3 linked regions of the Homo sapiens genome follow. The protein of the gene in region 2 purifies or fractionates together with the protein of the main gene of each other region. This does not show direct contact. Each region holds a gene or a part of one and is shown on either strand. Other genes may lie near its edges.

Region 1 (6,197 bases), on a different chromosome or scaffold from region 2:
GTGGGGATGTGAGCCAGGAAGAGTTTTCAGGCAGAGAGGACAGCGTGAAAGCCGCAAATTGGGGCCAGGCATGGTGGCTTATGCCTGTAATCCCAGCACTTTGGAAGGCCGAAGAGAGCAGATCACCTGAGCTCAGGAGTTTGAGACCAGCCTGGGCAACATGGCGAAACCCCATTTCTACCAAAAAAAAAAAAAAAAAAAATTAACCATTTGCAGTGGTGTGTGCCTATAGTCCCAGCTACTCAGGAGGCTGAGGCAGGAGAGTTGTTTGAGCCCAAGAGGCAGAGGTTGCAGTGAGTTGAGATCGCCCTATTGCATTCCAGCCTGGGCAACAGAGTAAGACTCTGTTTCAAAAAAAAAAAAAAATGCTGGAAGCTGGAAGCATCCTGACATTTCCAGGAGCAGCAGAGCCTGTGCATAACCAGCGACCCAGAATGTTTCTTTTGAGTCTTACAAGAGACGAACCCCTCAGGGCTTTTGAGGAGAGGCCTCTGTGGGGTGGGGCTCTGCAGCAATCAGGGAGGGCTAGTGAGCAGGTTCAGGAGAGCCTAGATGGGGGCTGGCCACAGGTTCAGCTGCGGATGGGGTGTGTGAGATACAGAGAGTGGTACAGAGGGTTCAAGGTTTGGGCCTGGGAAATTGCCTGGGGCAGGGGGGTCCCACTTGCTCAGAGTGAGCCAGGCCAGTGCTGGGCTTCCCAAGGAGCCGCTAGAGGCAAAGGGCAGAGGGGCCTCAGGCTGCTCGGGTTGGTGGGCTGTGCTGCAAGAACCTGCGGGAGATGAGTGTCAGAGCAGGGGGCCAGGGGCCTCTCTGAGACCTGATGGCCAGCCAGCGGGTGTGCAGGAAGAGGGGGAAGGAAGGCTCTCCACGGAGAGGGGCTACGAGAGCAAAGTCCTGAAGGCAAAACAGGCCTGGACTCCTTGAGGGGCAGAGACCAGTGCAGCTGGCATGGGAAGCAAGAGCAGGGTCAGGTCTGGAGGGAGAGGCAGGTCCCTGCTGGGCATAGAATAGAGAAGGGGTAGGGGCCGGGCATGGTGGCTCATGCCTGTAGTCCCAGCACTTTGGGAGGACGAGGCAGGCAGATCACTTGAGGCCAGGAGTTCGAGACCAGCCTGGCCAACGTTGTGAAACCCTGTCTCTACTAAAATTAGCTGGGTGTGGTGGCACATGCCTGCAATCCCAGCTACTGGGGAAGCTGAGGCAGGAGAATCGCTTGAACCCGAGAGGCAGAGGTTGCAGTGAGCCGAGATCACGCCACTGCACTCCAACCTGGGCGACAGAGTGAGACTCTGTCTCAAAAAAAGAATAGAGAAGGGGTCTGGGGCCAGCCCTTCCCTCCCTCTTGGGGCCCTGCTTACCTGGCCAGGCCTCTGTCCACCCCACAGGTAAGCTTCCAGCACGAGGTGTACCCAGCGGAGCCAGCCACAGGCCCTGCGGCCCCCAGCCAGGAGCTGGAGGAGCGACCGCTGTCCCGTCAGGTGTTCATCGTGCAGGAGCTGGAGGTCCGAGACCGGCTCGCCTCCTCCCAGATCAACAAGTTCCTGTACCTACACACGAGTGAGCGGATGCCGCGACGTGCCCACTCTAACATGGTATGAGCGACCTGCACCATCCACCCTGGGGCAGGGCACCAGACCGTTGGGGATACATCTTCACGCATGCATGGATTCACACACATACACGCATTCCCACACAAACACCCAGGTTGTTTGTGAGCCTGGGAGAAGGGCAGAGCTAGGGGCTGTGTTAGCGAAGGGAACAGCGTGTTCAGAGGCAGGGTGGCTGGGTGAGCTGTCAGGGAACAGCTGGGTGAGCTGCTGCCCCAGAGGCCCAGCAGGTGTCCAGAACTCACCCTCTGCTCCCAGCTCACCATCAAAGCGCTGCATGTGGCCCCCACTACCAACCTGGGTGGGCCTGAGTGCTGTCTCCGCGTCTCGCTGATGCCCCTGCGGCTCAATGTGGACCAGGTGAGTGGTCTACGTGAGGGCAGAGCCTAGGGTGACCCCACTGTCTCCAGGCCTCTGAGTCTGATCCACATCTGGACCTCTCCCTTGCAGGATGCCCTCTTCTTCCTCAAGGACTTCTTCACTAGTCTGGTGGCCGGCATCAACCCCGTGGTCCCAGGGGAGACCTCCGCTGAGGGTGAGAGGCTGGGCCAGGGAGGGGAGCGTCTGGGCCTTCTGCCTCCCAGGACAGCACAGGTTCCCAGTCATTCCTGGCCCCATCCCCAGTCTGTGACCTCCCCTCCCCTAGCTCGCCCCGAGACTCGAGCCCAGCCCAGCAGCCCCCTGGAAGGGCAGGCCGAAGGCGTAGAGACCACTGGTTCGCAGGAGGCCCCAGGAGGTGGACACAGCCCCTCCCCTCCTGACCAGCAGCCCATCTACTTCAGGTAGGCTGCTGGACTGCGGGTGGGGGGCCCTGGGCCAGATTGCTGGGGGCCAGGCCAGTGAGCAAAGAACCCCCTCTTCCTGCTCCCCTACCCAGAGAGTTCCGCTTCACGTCTGAGGTCCCCATCTGGCTGGATTACCATGGCAAGCACGTCACGATGGACCAGGTGGTAAGTGGGGCGGTCGGATGGGGTGGCCATGTGGGGTCAGCTGTGGCTGAGTCCCTCTGGGGGCCAGGTCTTGCATCCAGGCACTGTTAGCAGCCAGGGCGCTCTCCAGTGGCTCCCATGGGCTAGCTAGCTCCCTGAGTCCCATTGGGTAAACCTGGACCCCCTCCCTCTCCCAGGGCACTTTTGCTGGCCTCCTCATCGGCCTGGCCCAACTCAACTGCTCCGAGCTGAAGCTAAAGCGGCTCTGTTGCAGGCACGGGTGAGTCCCCAGCACCCCAGCCTCTCTCCAGGGTCCCTGATCTTCCTTCTGTTCTGGTCCTGACTGGTTGTGTGGCCTTGGCCAAGTCATCACCCTTCTCAGGGCCTCAGTTTCTCCTCTGTAAAAAGGACGCAGTTGGCTGGGCATGATGGCTCACACATTCAGGCATTCGAGACCAGCCTGACCAACATGGTGAAACCCCCCCGTCTCTACTAAAAATACAAAAATTAGCCAGGCGTGGTGGCATACACATGTAATCCCAGCTACTCAGGAGGCTGAGGCAGGAGAACTGCTTGAACCTGGGAGGCGGTTGCAGTGAGCCAAGATCGCACCACTTCACTCCAGCCTGGGCAACGGAGCAAGACTCCATCTAAAAAAAAAAAAAAAGGACACAGTCCCTCTGCACATGACTGGGTGGGACCACAGGGAGGGTAGAGTGCCCACAGTACTTGCCACAGGGGTACTGAGTCCTCCTGACCCCACAATCCCTCCATGTGTGGCTCTGCCTCACCTTCTGCCTCCTCACCTCCCTGCCCTGCCAGGCTCCTGGGTGTGGACAAGGTGCTGGGCTATGCCCTCAACGAGTGGCTGCAGGACATCCGCAAGAACCAGCTGCCCGGCCTGCTGGGAGGCGTGGGCCCCATGCACTCGGTTGTCCAGCTCTGTGAGTGTCTAGGTTTGGAAGCCCTCGAAACTGCTTTTACCCTTGGGCAACCTAGAAGCTGCCATTGGGAATAAGAGGAGGAGGTGGGGGCAGGGCAGCCTCGGGTGTCTCTGAGCGCTCCTTCCCCCTAGTCCAAGGGTTCCGGGACCTGCTGTGGCTGCCCATTGAGCAGTACAGGAAGGATGGCCGCCTCATGCGGGGGCTGCAGCGAGGGGCTGCCTCCTTTGGCTCATCCACAGCCTCTGCCGCCCTGGAACTCAGCAACCGGTTGGTACAGGCTATCCAGGTGAGTGGGTGCCCTGTATCTGGGCTGTGCAGGACAGAGCAGCTGGAGCCCTCTGCACCACAGCTCCCTGGTTCTGTCCTCAAAGCTCCTCAGAGTGGGCAGTCTGGGTATGACAGCCCTACTTTATAGAGAAACAGCCACGGAGAGGCTAAGTGACTTGCCTGGGACCTCCAAGCCAGGTCTCCCGAGGCCCACAGGGGCTCCCATGCAGGAGCGGGAGTGCCCCCCAGGCCTTCAGAGCCCACTGTGTCTCCTGCTCATGGCATGTCTTGTAAAGGGGGGTGGAGGACGGCTGTGTTTGCAGACTAAGAATCTGAGGCGCAGAGGCTGCCCTGGTTCATTCAGGCCATACGCTTCGCTAGGCCAGAAGGACCCCAGGGAAGCTGGGGAGCCAGTCTCGTGGGCAGTTGTCAGATGAATTCTGTAGGGGATCGATGGTCCTAGGCGGCTAAGGGGTGAGTGCAGGTGCATGGTGCATTCTGGAACCTGCAAGCTCAGACCCCAACAGGACAGAGGGCAGGGCTCCAGGGGAGGTGGGAGGGATGCATGGGCACCAGGGAGCCCCCGGGAGTGTTCAGTCAGGTGGGAAAGAGTGATGCCAGGTGAGATGCTGGGCAGAGGATCTGGCAGACAGAAGGAAGGATGGGCCTCTGACCATCTGGCAGGGGCGTCTGGGGGGCCAGGCAAGGAGCGGTCAGTCTCAGGCGTGCAGCTGCGGCAGCCATGTGGAACCTGCTGAATGTGGTGGTCAGCAGGAAGAGAGGTTTGGGTTGAGAAGACTTTAGGAAAGTCCCCTGAGGAGTCCCACGTTCCTAGGTTCCCTCAGCAGAGTGGCAGGTGCCTAGGAAGGGGAGGAAGAGTGGGAGGAAGTGGGGAGTGAGGCTGAGCAGGACCCCCTAGGCCAGCACAGTGACAGGCAGGGAGGCTGAGGGCTGGTGGGGTCTCAGACTGTCCTGGGGGCCTGGGGCTGACGTGTGCCCCAGCCAGCTGTCCTCATCCAGTGCTCCCATGTCCCCCAGGCCACAGCTGAGACCGTGTATGACATCCTGTCCCCGGCAGCCCCCGTCTCCCGCTCCCTGCAGGATAAGCGCTCTGCGCGGAGGCTGCGCAGGGGCCAGCAGCCTGCCGACCTGCGGGAGGGTGTGGCCAAGGCCTACGACACAGTGCGAGAGGTGACCAGGCCCCCGCCCTGCCCCAGTCCCCCATGCCCATCTCCTCACACAGACCCCGCCCTGACCTCTGGCTTCCACAGGGCATCTTGGATACAGCTCAGACCATCTGTGACGTGGCATCGCGGGGCCATGAGCAGAAGGGGCTGACGGGCGCCGTGGGGGGCGTGATCCGCCAGCTGCCCCCGACTGTGGTGAAGCCGCTCATCCTGGCCACGGAGGCCACGTCCAGCCTGCTCGGGGGCATGCGCAACCAGATTGTCCCCGACGCCCACAAGGACCACGCCCTCAAGTGGCGCTCGGACAGTGCCCAAGACTGAGCCTGGGGTGCCCGGCACCCAGAGGGTGCTGCCCACCATGCTCCTGAGCCTCCCAAGAGCTGCAGCCCACGGGCCCGGCCCGGCCTGGCCCTTCAGGGGATGGCCACTGTGAAGGACGCCTTCCCAGCCTGCCCGTTGCCAATCTGCTGTGAGAGGGGGGCCTCCCTGCCTTGGGGCCTTAGCCCTGGCTCTGCACTTTTCCTCCGGGGAGAAAGGACACTGCCCCTCCCCCGACCTGGGCCCACACTGCTGCCTTCTCCCAGGACGGAGGCTTTTGGACCCTCGGACCCCATCCCACTCAGCCAAGTGTCTTTCTGTGTCTGGGGGGAGGAGGGGATGATATCCGTGTGGTTCGATGTATTATTTTTAAGCTCCGTGAGTGCGTGGGTCAGTGTCTGCATGAAGTGGAATAAACTGCCCACCGCCAGCCCCCCTCTCAGATCCTCTGTCCCTGTGAACCCTGGCCTCAGCCTTGACCTTGGCCCCGCCCCAGATCCCACCTCTGCACCCAGCACCTCCCATGTCACCACCAGGGGTCGCCATGCCTCCTGGCCTTGCCCAGCAGATCAGGGCACAGGGGGACCCAGAGGCACCCAGCCCTGCACGCCTTCCCCTGGCTCTGGGCTCTGCCTTGCCCCTCCCAGGAGGCTGCCACTCCAGCCCCACTCCTGATGTGGCAGGAGCTACGTGGGGCTGCCAGGGGAGGGAGGGATGGTCCTTGGAGCCCAGCTGACCCTGCCTGGTTGTCACTTGAGGCCACTCGGGGAAGGCTGAGCCTGAGGCATTCTAGATGTTGCTCTCACCATCCCTAGTGGGGGCTTTTGGGGTGGCCCAGGCCTTGGCCCCTTGGTTTCCACTCTGATCTGGGGTCCCAGCTCCAGCACTTGGAGGGGGGAGGGGTGCTGGAGCAGCGCTGCAGCCGGAATCCCAACCCTCACTGCA
Region 2 (7,880 bases):
TGTTGGGAAAAGGTCTGGCAGTTTCTTTTCAGGTTTCCATATATCTCCTTTTTGACCCAGCAATTTACTACTAGGTGTTTACCCATGAGAAATGAGAACACATGTCCCTACAGAGACTTGTACACAAATGTTCACGGCAGCTTTGTTCACAATAACCAAAGAAAGAAAGAAAGAAACTAGAAGAAAGAAACTAAAATAATCCATGTATCCATTAACAGAATATACAAACAAACTGTGGAGTAAGACATACTCCGGAACATAAGTCAGCAATAAAAAAAGACCAAATCATGGATACGACATGGATGAATCTCAAAAATATGGTGAGCTTTACACAATATTGCAGAATTCCATTTACATGAAGTTCAAGAACAAGCCAAACTCACCTATGATGAGATACAGGGCAGTGGTTGCCACTGAGAGGGTGAGGGCAGAGAATGACTGAGAATGAGGATGAAGGCACCTGCTGGGGTGACAGTAATATTCTCTGTCTTGATAAGGACTAGGGTTACACAGGTGCATGCATCTGTCAAAACATTATGCAAATGGTACTTTCCATCTTTGCACATTTCACTATATGTATATAAATTTTATCTTAAGGAAACCATAAGCACATATTGAAGTCAAAATAATAAAATGTGTACTAAAATGTTTAGGAATGACCTGTACCAACATCTGTAATTTACTTTAAAGTGCATAAAACCATCAGCTGGACTTATGGATGGACACAGGGATGGCTGGATGGTTGGGGGAGGTGTGTAGTTAAGCAAAGATGGCAAAATGTGAATTAGACTCTAGGTGTGTATATTTAGGGGGTCACTGTTCTTGCAACTTTTCTATATCTTAAAAAATGGGATGGGGATAGAGTCACAGTGTCCTCTCCTTAGTCCACCAAGTTAGAAATTTGGCAAAGCACCATGCCCCACCAAGCCATGGGACCACATAGTTTCAATTCTGCTGAAAAGAGAAGACTGGAAGAACATAAGTAGCTTTACAGGAACTCACATCACTCATGCCAAAGATTTTCTGCTTGTTTCCCTACAGACAAAGCAATTATTTGAATGTAAGCCAAAAATTCCTGCTCAAGAGGGAGAAAAAGAACTCACTGACTTGTATTCCCAATTTATTATCTTTCAATTCCTGTACCAAATCTACTAGCTAACTGCACAACACTCCACTTCCATTTGCCCCATGTCCATACAGCCAAAAAGCAAACAAAGAAAAACCAACCCAGTGACTTGATATACAAATGCAGCCAGAGGATGACGTGCCAGCTCTGGGGCTTTGAATCACTCAGGCGGGCCAGAAACCCCACTGAAGGCAAAAGAGGATGCAGAGCTCAGTCTGAGGTTAGAGTGATTTCACTGAGGTTAGCACACACGCACCAAAGAGTCCCAAACAGCTTGCTTCGTAACCCCTCTCTGGGGTTTGGTGACATCTGGGGTCACTTGAACTTCGTTGGGATTCAGCTGTTCAGAGATACAAATTAGGAATCCCGGCAGCAGAGAGGCCCTACCCACAGGCCCAGAGGTCGCTCACATTACACCCGGCTTCCTTCCTGGCAAGGCCTTAACTTATCCTGAGATGACACACGATGGCAGGGGTTGGAAGATGCCTAGTCTAGTTGAGCGCCCAGCTCCTGAAACAGCTGTACCGACTACAAGGGTTCCAGCACATGAGTTGCTGGAAACTGGGGTGACCACTGACAGAGATTGAGCCAGACTTTTTTTTTAAAAAAGTACTTCTTGTTTGTTTGTTTTAAGCCCCCGAAGAAACTCACTGACACCACCCAGCGTCCCTAGGGATCACCCATAACCACACAGGGCAGCTGAGGGCAAGCACAGAGTCACAGACAGACAGCAGGGAGCGTGCCTGGTTCTACAACCTTGGCCTCCACGCGGTTCTTGCTGCCAAAGGCAGCGACACCGGAGGTGAAGGGCACCAGCCCTGGCCTAGGACTGGGGTGCGCGTGCCTGACAACGGGGCTTCCCGAAATACACAACCACCTCCTCCTCGCCCAGACCCATATCCATCCTGGCGTCCCTTGAGTCTAGAGAAGTGGGTTAAGACAAGGGAAGAAAATCCCTTACAGAAGAGGAGATCCCCGTTTTCAGTGCTGGGGACTCTCGGCACCCGCGTCCCTGTGCTTCTGGTGGTTCCGGCGCTTCCTCGGAGCGCGCGGCATGTCTGCTCCTACACGTCCAGCACCTCTGTCCCCAGAGCAAACCCACCTCCCAGGGCACACGCAGAGGGGCAGTCAGGCACCGCCTCCACCCTGCCCCACCCAGGCCGCGCGCACCCCGGAAACCTGGACTCCGCGACCAGCTCCCTCCTGTTCTTTTCCGAGGACCCCAGCGGCAGTGTGTCCTGGACCCACCTGTAGCCTCCAAGCTCCCCCACCTCTGCGTCCTTCCTAGGCGCTTCTGAGCCTGCAGAGCCTACGACCCCCAACAGGCTGCTCCGAAGTGCCTCTCCCTACATCGCTCCAGGAATGACTCCCCTACACCCGTTCCCCGCAAAAAAAAGTTGGCCCAAGATCCAGGCGTCCCAAGGATCAGCCCAGGTCCCCATCCGACGCGGGCCAGGGGGTGCTGCTCTGGCAGCTCCGGAGCCCCGGCAAAGAGCAACCTGCAGGGAGGCGCCACGCGCGGTTCCCACTACCCGCCAGAGACCCGGTCCATGGGGCCAAACGGAGGGGCCTGTGCCGGTCGACACCCCAAGCCCTGTCGCGCCCCCCCCGCCGCCTACCGTATGGGACCGGCGGAGGAGAAGGCGCGGTCGCGGGCTCCCTGAGGCAGCGTGTTCCGTCCCGGGAGGAAAGTTTGTGCCATACAGAGGAGGCGGCGCGGGGAGGACTTGGGCGCCGGTGGGTGGAGGCGTGGGCGGTGGCGCCGCGTGGTCGTGTGTCTGTCCCTCCGGCGATCGGTGCGTCTGTCCCTCGCCGGAGCCCGCGGCCGCCGCGCTCTCGCTCGCTGCGCCCAGCGCCCGGCGCGCTCCGGCTCCAGCCCCGACGCGCCCCCGCCGCCGCCGCCGCGCGTCCGCCGGCTACACTTCCTCTTCCTCTGAACTCATGTGCAAAATATGCTACGCTGCATCTTCAGGGAAAGCCTCGCGGCCCCTGACAGCAGCCGCTGGAGCGGTGGGCCCGCCCAGCTCTCCCCGCGCCCCCTCGGAGTTCCGCCCGGTCACCTCCACGCGGCCGAGCTGCAAGCGACCCTGGCAGCCTCAGAACCCAGGGGTCAGGGGCTCATCGATCCTCCCTCCCAGCCCCTCCTAATCAAGGTTGTGTGCTGTCAGGAAGAGCGCCTGGGAGACAAGGATCCTTCAAGATTTGAGCCAGGATGCTGAAAGGGCGACTGCCATCAAGGTGCTGATGGCTGGGGGTGGGGTTGGGGCCGACTTGAGAGAGGACCATTTCTCGACCCCATTCCACAGGTGGGAGCATCCCTAAACATCTCAGGTGCTGCTGAAATTCTCTCTTGCGAGTTAGTGCTTCAGGGAAGGGTAATGCCACTGTCTCCGTTGCCATCCCTTGGTCTACCTACTTAAGATGTCCAGAGGTTTGAGAAGATCTGGAGAATCACCTTGCGTGGCAACTTGAGGCACCCAGGGAGAAAATTATATAAAGAGTGAAGCACTAGTAAACCAGGCTGCATTAGTAAAGTGAAGATGTGAGGCAAGGAGCCATTAGAAAATATTTTCTTCGTAAAACTAAACCAAGCAGAATTACAGTGTAGGGGTTAAGAGGGGGAACTTTAAAGTCAAATAATCAGGGTTGGATTCCTGGCTTTAGTACTTACTGGCTGTGTGACTTTGGGTAAGTGACTTAACTGCTCTGCGCCTATTTGTCACATGGCACTTCTTCGTGGGTTATTATATGTAAAGTGTTTAGCAACCACTCTATAACTTAGCTATTATCATTATTTTAAGGGGGCTAGAACAAGAAGGGTGAGATAATTTAATTAATTATCTCCATTTTCTAATTGGGCAAAGAAGACCCTGTGTGGGCAAAGTTAAGCACTGGAGCACACAGGGTGGAGGGCTGGTTTAGGGGCCCAGCAGTGTTTCGATGAGGTCCTTCTGGCACTAATAACACTCCTCCAGCAAGTAAGGAAGCACTATTTTGTTTTCAGGGACTCTTCCTGTTACCACAGCTTCTCAGAGATTTTCTTCCTTATTTTCTCTTTCCATAGCCTTTCTAGTTCTGTTTTGCTCCCCCTCCCTCACCACTGTTTTGTTTTTATTTGTTTTTCTCCTTTCCCTTTCCACCCCACCTTTTCCTGGTGTCACACTCACCACCACTATCCCCAGTGTCCCCCATTTCCCCCCTACACTTGAGCTTGCCACATGAAAGAAAATAAGACCAGGTGACCACGTAAGTCCAGGTTCAGACAGTAGTGCGCAGGGACATTTGCTCAGGGGCATCACCAGAGGTTGTGAACACCCATTTATGAAGCCAAAGGGAGGGGTCTTCATGCTATCTATCTGCCCGAGGCCTTGAATTGCTGCAAGTCAGGGTCCATCCAAAATCTTTCTGATCCTTTGCTGGTCACTAGGCCACAGAAAGAAAATAAAATTGATAGGTGTTAACCGGTAGGCATTTAAAAGAAGATAAAGGAAAAAGGAGGGTGGGGGTGGGGGAATGCAGCATAACCTAGTTGCAGTGTGCTTGATTTCTTTTAAGCAAATCATTTTCACTCTATAAAACTTTTGCACACCGTTGTGTTTTTTGTGCTTTTTTTTTTTAAGACACCAGTGCTTGAGGTTAATATGCTATTCTGATTGCTTCCATTTTCTTCCACTCAATATTTTCCCGAGTGCTAATAATCATGGGCAAATGTCTTAAATGACTTTTTTCCCTGCTTGGATCTGCATTTTTGAGGGTTTTCTAGAACTCCTGATCTTCTTGATATTCTGATGCTTCCTACTGGCACATAGTAGGTGTTCAGTAAATATGTGTGGAATGAGTGGATGAGCCAATAGCATGCAGATCTTTCAAGGCTCTTCTTAACCTGCATTCAGCAATTATCCAGGGTGTTCCAATTCTCTTTCACCTGGAATATTTAATGAGGAGCCAAATGTTGGATTCACTTGTGTTCTGTAGAGAGCTGCCTGGATTTTCCACTTGACTGCTATGGACTGGCCAGCCATGGGAGAGACCCTGGGCAGCTGGGTCTCACTTCTAACTGACCTTGCCTACCCAGCCCCAACCCCAAAGATGCTGGGACTGTATCCTAGTGGGTTACCTTGGCAACCTCACAATGTCATCTGTTAGAATGTCCTAGGGCGGCAGCTTTTAATTCTATCACAGCGGTCTCATCGGGGGTCATGTAATAGTGCTGTTTTTTCTCTGCTCACACTTCCTCCCCCTGTGATTTAACACTAAGTACTCGGGGAGGAGCTGAACACGGGAAAAACCAAGCTATTACTGCATGACAGGTCACAGATGGCCCCAGAACTGGGGTCCCGAGTGTTCACAGTCAATAAGACGCAGGTCCCAAGCTAATGGGGAAGCTGGATCTCCTCACACCCCCTGTGGAAAGAAGAGGAGTTAAGCCAGCCTAGGCAAGTGTAAGAAGCTGCTGTGGCCAGACTGCACGATTCTTGTAAAAGCTCAGTTAAAGGAACCCCCCGCTGGAATAATTCTTTCTTGGCCTCAGCAGCACCACCCCACTCTGGAGATGATTAAGGCCATGGGTACCAGCAGCCGGAGCAATTTCGCTGCATCCTAACTATGCTGAGGCTTGGAGGGAAGGAGAATCCCAGCTAACCTATTCTGCTCACCTTCTTCCCACCAGACCCCATCCCCACAATTTCACTTCACTTAGGTCCACCCTGCTCCTAACTTAGCCCAAAATAATTCAATTCCCCCTCTCTGCAGAGAGTAATCACAGTTCATAGCAGAAATGGATCAAACAAAAGCTTTGGAACCTGAAGAGCTATTGTCCTAATTGTTTATGTACAGGACCACGAAACCCAGACCTTACACTCGCCAGCTGAACAGCAGAGTTTCAGGGCTGGTGGGAGACAGAACTAGACTTATCTATGCCCTGGAGGTGCAATAATTATTCATCTTTATCATCACAGTTAATATTTTAATGGGTTTGCAGCCACAGTGAGCTCACAGTTTGGCCAGCTGCTCTGTACTAAACAGTTATAGGAAGCTGGCCCTGCATCCGGTGACAATCGTGCCTGTAAGGAGCCACGGTGGCAGGGGCCTGAGCTCTGTGCCCCAAGCCAGTGGTTTTGGAGGAGGCCCCTGCCCTTTGTTCATGGTGACAGGCACAGCCTGCACAGGCACGCCCCTAGGAAGACCATGGCACCCTTGGCCACGTTAAAGCAGAGTACACTTGTGCCAAAACATGCTTTTGACTCCCCAGTACAGTGGAGATGTGAATTAGGGTGGGGGCAGGGAGCTGGTTAGGGCATTTTTTGCATATGCATTGATCAGCCAAGGCTAGGGACTTTTGTCCAAAGTATAGTCAAAACAATACTTTGAAAATGCCACCCACAGACATCACCAATTTGAGGAAATGTTGGATGATAGCCAAATGTTCCATTCACTCCCATACAAAAAAAAAAAAAAAAAAAAAAAAAAACCACCACCCACATTTATTGTTATTCTGCTCCTGAATCCACTCATTTTACCTCTGAATTCCCAGTCTGAGTCAAGCAGTTCAGGGGAGCAGGGGCCCTCCTGTGGCTGAGATGGAATTTGTTCTCTGGAGCAAAGAGCCACTGGAGACTGAATTTCAGGAATACTGCGTGCAACACATTGCTATTTGTAGCTTTGTTTCCCTCACTCAGCCTGAGGAATTGTCTGAATTTACCAAAAGCCATCCACATCCACACCCCTTCACTGGTTATTCCATTCATGGGACACATTTGTTGACTTGCATTTGAGAACTTTATTACCAGAGATAAGGGGGAAATGTGTGTGTGTGTGTGGGGGGGGGGGGGGGTGTGTGTATAAGGAGCCTATACATTCTACAGATGTCAAAATAAGGAGATCATAAAAATAAATCATCATTAAATGAATGGCAGGATAACATTTTGATATATTAATTAATCTGATTTCCCTTCCACCATCATTCCCCCGCCCCCACTGTATTTCTTGCTACACTGTACAACTTGTATTTCTTGTTCCTGTACAACTCTCTTCCCATCAATTTGGACAGCCGGAAGTGTTGTCAAAAGGAGAGTTATCATAACTCCACCAGAAAAAAAGTCAAATTCTTGGCTTTTGAGTTTTGGAAGTCAATGTCCAGGCATAAAACGAAAATACATGGAAAAATAGGAAATCAGGCAGAACCAGTGTCCCGCAGCATATCTCCTTTCCTTTTGCTACCCACCCACCATCCTGTACACACATACCTTCAAAAAATCAATAAAAGCTTCACAACTGGAGAAAAGCAAGGAAGGAAAGGCACAGGGAATATGTTGATGGCAGCAACTGGTAGGACACAGTGACTGACCAGAGTCAGAATTCAGAAACCCACCACCTCCACTCAAGTGAAAATCATCCATCCATAGTATCTGAGAACCCTGTGGACAGCTGTTCAGCTCTTGGGATTTGTGCAGGAGGAGCATTATAGACCTTCAGTAGAGGAAGGAAACAGGCTGTTCATCCTTCCCATTGACGCTGGACAATGAACTCCCATCAACAGCAGCCAGAGCACAACCCGTGGATCATCCAGAGAGGCTAACTCCTATTCCATGAGTTCAACCCTCATTTAATAGCCTAGAGTGCTGGTAAGCTCTTGAGATGGACAGCAGGGCCCTGGACCCTGAGAAGATCCAAGGGTATGAAAAGATGCTCCCACCTACTTCCCATCACACCTGTACGTAGAAGAACCCGAAGGGACCAGTTCAGTATCCCCCTT
Region 3 (7,033 bases), on a different chromosome or scaffold from region 2:
TACCATCTAGGTTTTTATAAGTACGGTGTATTCTATTTGCATAAAGAAATCACTTAATGACACATAACTTAGAACATAACCCTATCATTAAGCAACAGGTGACTCTGTGTGTGTGTGTGTGTGTGTGTGTGTGTGTGTAGAGGAGAGAAAGAGACCATTATCATATGAGTGTGTTGGGGCTGCTGAGAGGGTTTCGTTTACAAGTGACCTTGAGTGTATTTCATCTCTGGAATGCATGGTCCCTGCGCTCAAGCTACACAATCTGATTAGTGAAGTATTACTAATACACTAGAAAAATATACATAGTAATTACCAAATGACTGACACAATTTTATAGGGGGTTCAGAGAAACATCTGTGAATGGGTAATAATGAAAAAAGAAAAGTTTTTCTCTTTGTTTTAGTCTGACCCTTTTAACAGTCTCTATTCATAATGTGAGGAAATCGCTACAAAAACTGAAATATTGTAGATACTGTTCATTTGCATATGGAAATACTTGTATGCTGTGTGTTGTTCTTTCATGGGACAAACTCTACCCCTCCTCTCTCCACACACATATACACAAGCTATAAGTAGCCTAGCTTTCGCCATAGGAGTTGCTGGCTTTTTTAGTGAGAGTCAAGAGCTGGCTTGGTAAAGTCTTAAAGAATGGAGAAGAGGAGGAAGGAGAGAAGGGAAGAAAGAGGGAGTAAGTGTAACAGTAGAGGGAGAGAGTTAATACACTTGGATGCTGCTTACAAACCAAAAATTAGTCTCCTAATACTAATTTATGATTGTAAGAAAGTATATAAATATCTGACATATAGAAAATAGACAAGTGTTAATTTTAAAGGTATTAATTGCTACAAACTAAATTAATATTTTAAGAATTCATTAAAAATTAGAATATTAGAAGAAAAATATTAACTTTCCCTACTGTGATTAGCTACTAGTTCAGTTTAACTGTCTTCAGCTAATTCTATATTATTGTTTTAATAGAAACCATATACATTCTTATGTGTATATGAGATTTGGACAATTGGTGTCAAGATCAAGTTAAATACAACTTTGTAACAATATTATGTTTTTTTGATTCAGCATGTAAGTATATGCCTCCTTTTATCCAAGGGTACATGTCTTTAAATAGAAACTGTGCTTGAAGAAAGCTGTAGAAGAATTTAATATTTAAATAAATGCTTTTGTAGGATGAAAAGAATTTACAGTGAATATAAAGCTCCTGCTTGACTGTTAATCTAAATTTTAATAATTTGTATTGCTTAAAGTAAGATGTAATTTAAAGTAGTGATTTTTTTGATGTCTTTTATCAGTAATTACTGTTTGAATTTTTATAGGAATCCATGGGAAAGAGCTATGATGGGAGAGCTTATGTCATCACTGGCATGTGGAACCCCAATGCACCAGTATTTCTGGCACTTAACGAGGAAACCCCAAAAGGTGACTTTTCTTAAAAGATCCCTTATTGTTTGCTTTACATTTTATATTATGAACAATGTTGCTTGTCATGTTTTAAAAAAAATTTGGAACTCAAAGTGGACTTATTCTTTCATTGAGAATTTGAGGTTCATTTTTATTCTTTATGCTTCTATGGGGGAAATCTCCACTATTTAAAAAAATCCTCCCCAAAAGATATGTGAATTATTATTATTGTTATTATTTTAAGAGACAGGGTCTCACTCTGTTGCCCAGGGTAGAGTATAGGGGCATTATAGCTCACTGTAACCTCAAACTGTCATGCTCAAGCAATCCTCCCACCTCAGCCTCCTGAGTAGCTATTAAATAGAACTACAGGTGTGTGCTGCCATGCATGGCTAATTTTTAAATTTTATTTTTGTAGCGATGGGGTCATGCTTTGTTGCCCAGGCTTGTCTTGAACCTTTGACCTCAACTGATCTTCTTGCCTTCCAAAGCACTGGGATTACAGATGTGAGCCACTGCACCTGGCCTGAATTAATTTTATTAGATTATAGAGAAAGCATTTGGGCTTTGTTTTTCATATACCACTATAGAGTTATTTCATTTGTGGAGACTAGTGATGGAGAAATATTAAAGAAAATGATGAAAAGGAAATATTTTAGAATTTTGAATATTTTTAAATTATTAACTATTTTTGCATTATAGTTTACTTATAGTTTTTCATTTATTAATTATTGGCTCCAGTCTTTTGGCCTTCGGGATGCTTGTAATATATATTAAATATTTCAGTTGTAGCAAATAGTTTTTTCTTAGTTTTTTAACTTTTCATATTATTTATCATGTCTAGTATTGAACAGAATGTATAAATGTTGAATAGTCACATTTTTCGTTGTTCCATTGTGTTTTTTCATTCCTACTTCATCCAGATAGCTGTTAATTGCCTGTTTTTTGCCCCTTCATTATCTACTTTTAAACTAAATTTAAAGTTTTACCTGCCGAGTTATATGCCTACCCTAAGTGCTTTACTGTCATTAAACCATTAATTCATATTTAGAATATAATGGATCAGTTTGTTTTATCATTAATTTTTATATTATTTAGTTTATACCCACAGTAGACTTTTGGTTACTGACAGGAAGCATTCGTGAATACTGATATGAAAATATAATATGTTAATGAAGGGCATTAAAATGATAATTATTCTTTCATTTCCTTAAAGAGAGTATTCACCATTTATATAAATCACATACATTGATCACATATTAAGCTGTCTAAAAATAAAGGCTAAACAGAAAAAAAGATTATATAAAATTTAACTTTTCATTTATTAGCAGTAAATAATTTTTAGACCCACAATTTGTTATTTCTGGAGACAGGCTTGCAAATACCTGTAACTTCTTTCTTATACTTGTTCAGAAGGAAGCCACAAAAATGATAAAAATAAGCCAGTTGACAGTTTTGAAGAACAAAATATAAGAATTTTGCATATCAAGTTATAAAAATAGTTTTTATGTTTTTAATGTAACACCTAGTTTAGTTTTATTTTGCAATAAAATATATATTTGGTCCACAAAAGAAAATTTATTTATAATTTATTCTATTAAACTATATAATAGTATATTATAATATTCTGATTCAAAGTATACATTTTAAATTTAACATTATCTCATATGCCACACAAAAATGTTGCCCTGATTTTTAAAATTTCTAAATTATGTCCTTGAAATTACACATTACTCAGAGAATGTGTGATCAAATAAAGTTTGATTTTTATGGAAGAAGTTTAGAACCTGAGAGATGAAAAGTCTTGGATCTTTCCACTGCACTAAGATCCAGTTGAATGTTATATTCTGTCTTGTGTTATTACTCCTTACTCCTTTCTCTAAGGTCCTCCAGGTCAAGTATAATGTCTAACAAATTTTAGTTTCTCTTGAATTGGCAGGTGTATTTAGTAAGACTGTATTTAGTAAGAATGTAATAAAATTGTTATTGAATTTGAGAAGTAGTTGATGAATCTGAATGTTATATAATATTTAAAAACACTATTGAGGGTTTCTTCTAGTGGTGGCCTTGGTTATTTGGACTTTCCTTTAACAGAGAACTAAAAATTGTAAAGAAAATAAATTTTAAAAAATATTTAAAAAGGAATGAGGAAATTACAAAATGGTATGGAATGACCAGGCCATAGATTCAAAAACCTCAATGAGGCCAGGTGTGGTGGCTCACGCTTGTAATCCCAGCACTTTGGGAGGCTGATGGGGGTGGATCACCAGAGGTCAGGAGTTTGAGACCAGCCTGGCCAACATGGTGAAACCCCGTCTGTAGTAAAAATATTTTAAAAATCAGCTGGGTGTTGTGGCGGGCACCTGTAATCCCAGCTACTTGGGAGGCTGAGGCAGGAGAATTGCTTGAGCCCTGGAGGCGGAGGTTGCAGTGAGCCAAGATCGCTCCATTGTACTCCAGCCTGGGTGAGACTCTGTCTCAAAACAACAAACACTTAGGATTATTAGTTCCTAAGAAACATGCTTGGAGTACTTGCATACTTATTTAATCAAAATGTGAATAGAACAGTTAAAAATAAACATAGAAGGTATTACAATTGTAAAGAACTTTAATTCTTTCATAAGTGAGGAAACTTTGTTTAAAGTAGACAAGGAATAATAAAGCTCGCATAAAACCCAGAAAATTTCTACTACAGATAAGCAAGTATACATGACTGTGGCAGTGGATATGGTAGTCACAGAGGTGGTGGAGCCTGTTCGCTTTCTCCTGGAGACAGTAGTCCGTGTGTACCCTGCAAATGAGCGATTTTGGTATTTCAGCAGAAAGACTTTCACAGAGACTTTCTTCATGAGATTGAAACAGGTAGGACCTTTTTGTTCTCTTCATATATAGTAACAAACATTTTTCTTTCCACACTTCTTTTTTAATGCCAAGATAATTCCTGAAGTTGCAAAACAATACAATTCCTCAAAGAAATCAAATGATATTTGAAGTCAACCAATAGAGTGTTTGAAAAAGTCACATCTAGGTAATATTAGCTAAAAAAACCCAGCAAGTTTAATAATTACATACTTTTTCCCTAGAAACCTGTAATGTATGAACCTTCTTAACAGAAATATTGACTGCATATAAAACAACGTTTCTGCCTTTTATAAACAATTACTTAAAACCAAAAAGGCAGTGCACAGAAATATCATATGCTTATAAAATTTTAATGAAAATGTTTCTAAGAAATACCTAATTTCTATAGTTATTTCTGCCTGTAATATTAGATAGACAATATTATATGAACATCTTGTTTGACTCATCAGTGAGGTTATAAAATTATTTTAATATTAAATGAACAAAATTATGGTTTCTATGATATCCTCAAATTAGGCAGTATTAGTAGATAAAATATGTAACTTTTGTATTATAGCAAAGGAAGCAGATAATAATGAAAAATAACTTGAATGCTAATTGTGTGAGTTTTTAAAAAATCAGGATAAAAATGCTCTATTAGAATAATGAACATCTTTTATATGCTGTTTTTGTTAGTACTTTCATTCTCCCAAGTTTTAAAATGCTTGCTGCTTCATATACTATAATATGTGGACTGCTGTGTGATAAAAGCAGGCACCAGTACAGGAAACAAATATAGAAGCCTCTTACCCATTTTCATATTAAAAAAACTGCCATGGCGCATCTCGGCTTTATATACTATGTACTTGGAAATTATTGTGGTTTTAAAAAAATCTTTCATAAAATTATTATGGCTGTTATTTGACTCAGTTTTTATTACTGTGTGAACTGCTTTTATAGCATATTCTAATGAAGGTTATGTGAGCAATATTCAAACTTCAGTCTCCTGAGCATCTTTTAATATTTTATTATGAGACTTTTTTCCTGTCTTCCTTCCTCCCCATCCTTCTTTTTTAAAAAAATAGCTTAGTTATGACTATCCAATAATTCTTCATTTTGAGCCAAAGAATTATTCATAGTTGCATAATCGTGAATAAAGGAGCTGGAGCTGTATAGAAAGTTGTCATTCTTCTAATGATGATAAATTATAATGTAAATTATACCTCCTAGAGATCTGAGAAAATGTTAGGTTTTTCCCAGTTCTAGTACTTTTGACTGTCTGTCTGCCTGGAGAGAGAGAGAGAGAGAGAGAGAGAGAGAGAGAGAGAGAGAGACATTAAAGTAATTGTTAAAATTCATGTAAGTAATTATTGCAAGACCTGAGACTATAACTCCTTACCTTAAGCCAGAATATGCTGCTGTAAGGCCAGACTAGCTTCTTTCTACACCTCCAAAAGGTGGGTTGGTTTGGGGTGGTTGATGGTAATCTGGAGATGTTGGTCTACACTATACAACATTGGTAGAAAGAATGAATTAGGTGATTACCTAATGCAATTCAAAGTAACCTTTGAAAATCTGGGTCCAGGCCATTACTACTTTAAAGAAATAAAGAGAGAATGCATTGATTTCAGTTCTAAGTGATTTAGACACCTAGAACTTTTTCTTTCATTCTGAGAGTGTTGAACTTATTGAATGAAACCAGAACTTGTCCTGTACCCAGACAGGATTAGACCAGACTCCTGGGGGCAACACCAAAGTACATGAGATGCCCTGTTCCCAAACTATTTTTTCTTGGCAACTTTCTTCTCTCAAATATAGCAGAACTTTATGTGTGGGCAGTGGGGATGTATGAAAGTCTGCTTTGTTCCTGTTTACTGTCCACTCAGGGCCAAATGGCATTTCATTTCATTCATTGTCCATTTACTGGGAGCAAGGAGAGCACTTAACAAGAGGATGGAAACTAGAGTCTGGGAAAGTAAACTAGAGGCTGGGAAAGTAAACTAGAGAAAGTCCTTTTGTGTCCGGAATTGGTTCCTTTCAGTGGGTTCTTGGTCTTGCTGACTTCAAGAATGAAGCCGCGGACCCTTGCGGTGAGTGTTACAGTTCTTAAAGATGGTGTGTCCAGAGTTTGTTCCTTCAGATGTACAGATGTGTCTGGAGTTTCTTCCTTCTGGTGGGTTAATGGTCTCACTGACTTCAAGAGTGAAGCCGCAGACCTTTGCAGTGAGTGTTACAGCTCTTAAAGGTGGCGTGTCTGGAGTTGTTTGATCCTCCCGGTGGGTTCGTGATCTTGCTGGCTTCAGGAGTGAAGCTGCAGACCTTCGCGGTGAGTGTTACAGCTCATAAAGGTAGTGCGGACCCAAAGAGTGAGCAACAGCAAGATTTACTGTGAAGAGCAAAAGAACAAAGCTTCCACAGAGTGGAAGAGGACCCGAGCGGGTTGCTGCTGCTGGCTTAGGTGGCCAGCTTTTATTCCCTTATTTGGCCCAGCCTGCGCCCTGCTGATTGGTCCATTTTACAGAGCACTGATTGGTCCATTTTACAGAGCGCTGATTGGTCCATTTTACAGAGTGCTGATTGGCCTGTTTTTACAGAGTGCTGTTTGGTGTGTTTACAAACCATTAGCTAGACACAGAGCACTGACTGGTGCGTTTTTACAGAGTGCTGATTGGTGTGTTTACAAACCTTTAGCTAGACAGAGTGCTGATTGGTGCGTTTACGCTCCTTTAGCTGGACAGAAAAGTTCTCCAAGTCCCACCCGACCCAGAAGCCCAGC

The links. Proteins that work in one complex are often made in the same cells at the same time.
Region 1: the proteins of RFTN1 (region 2) and ATG2A purify together in Homo sapiens (affinity purification with mass spectrometry; 2 studies listed by BioGRID and IntAct, with this or other methods). This does not show direct contact.
Region 3: the proteins of RFTN1 (region 2) and RABGAP1L purify together in Homo sapiens (affinity purification with mass spectrometry; 3 studies listed by BioGRID and IntAct, with this or other methods). This does not show direct contact.

Annotation. Positions count from the first base shown.
Region 1 is NC_000011.10:64,894,031-64,900,227, reverse strand, and holds the end of ATG2A (autophagy-related protein 2 homolog A), read left to right. Parts: intron 1-1,385; coding exon 1,386-1,592; intron 1,593-1,790; exon of another isoform or gene 1,791-1,865; coding exon 1,866-1,967; intron 1,968-2,057; coding exon 2,058-2,142; intron 2,143-2,253; coding exon 2,254-2,389; intron 2,390-2,484; coding exon 2,485-2,557; intron 2,558-2,733; coding exon 2,734-2,816; intron 2,817-3,358; coding exon 3,359-3,480; intron 3,481-3,611; coding exon 3,612-3,766; intron 3,767-4,785; coding exon 4,786-4,938; intron 4,939-5,018; coding exon 5,019-5,255; 3' UTR 5,256-5,682; downstream 5,683-6,197. UniProt on the Homo sapiens protein: Lipid transfer protein involved in autophagosome assembly. Tethers the edge of the isolation membrane (IM) to the endoplasmic reticulum (ER) and mediates direct lipid transfer from ER to IM for IM expansion.
Region 2 is NC_000003.12:16,510,697-16,518,576, forward strand, and holds the start of RFTN1 (raftlin), read right to left. Parts: upstream 3,004-7,880; 5' UTR 2,746-3,003; exon of another isoform or gene 2,375-2,745; intron 2,221-2,374; exon of another isoform or gene 2,088-2,220; intron 1-2,087. UniProt on the Homo sapiens protein: Involved in protein trafficking via association with clathrin and AP2 complex.
Region 3 is NC_000001.11:174,274,502-174,281,534, forward strand, and holds part of RABGAP1L (rab GTPase-activating protein 1-like), read left to right. Parts: intron 1-598; exon of another isoform or gene 599-688; intron 689-1,331; coding exon 1,332-1,434; intron 1,435-4,111; coding exon 4,112-4,278; intron 4,279-7,033. UniProt on the Homo sapiens protein: GTP-hydrolysis activating protein (GAP) for small GTPase RAB22A, converting active RAB22A-GTP to the inactive form RAB22A-GDP. Plays a role in endocytosis and intracellular protein transport.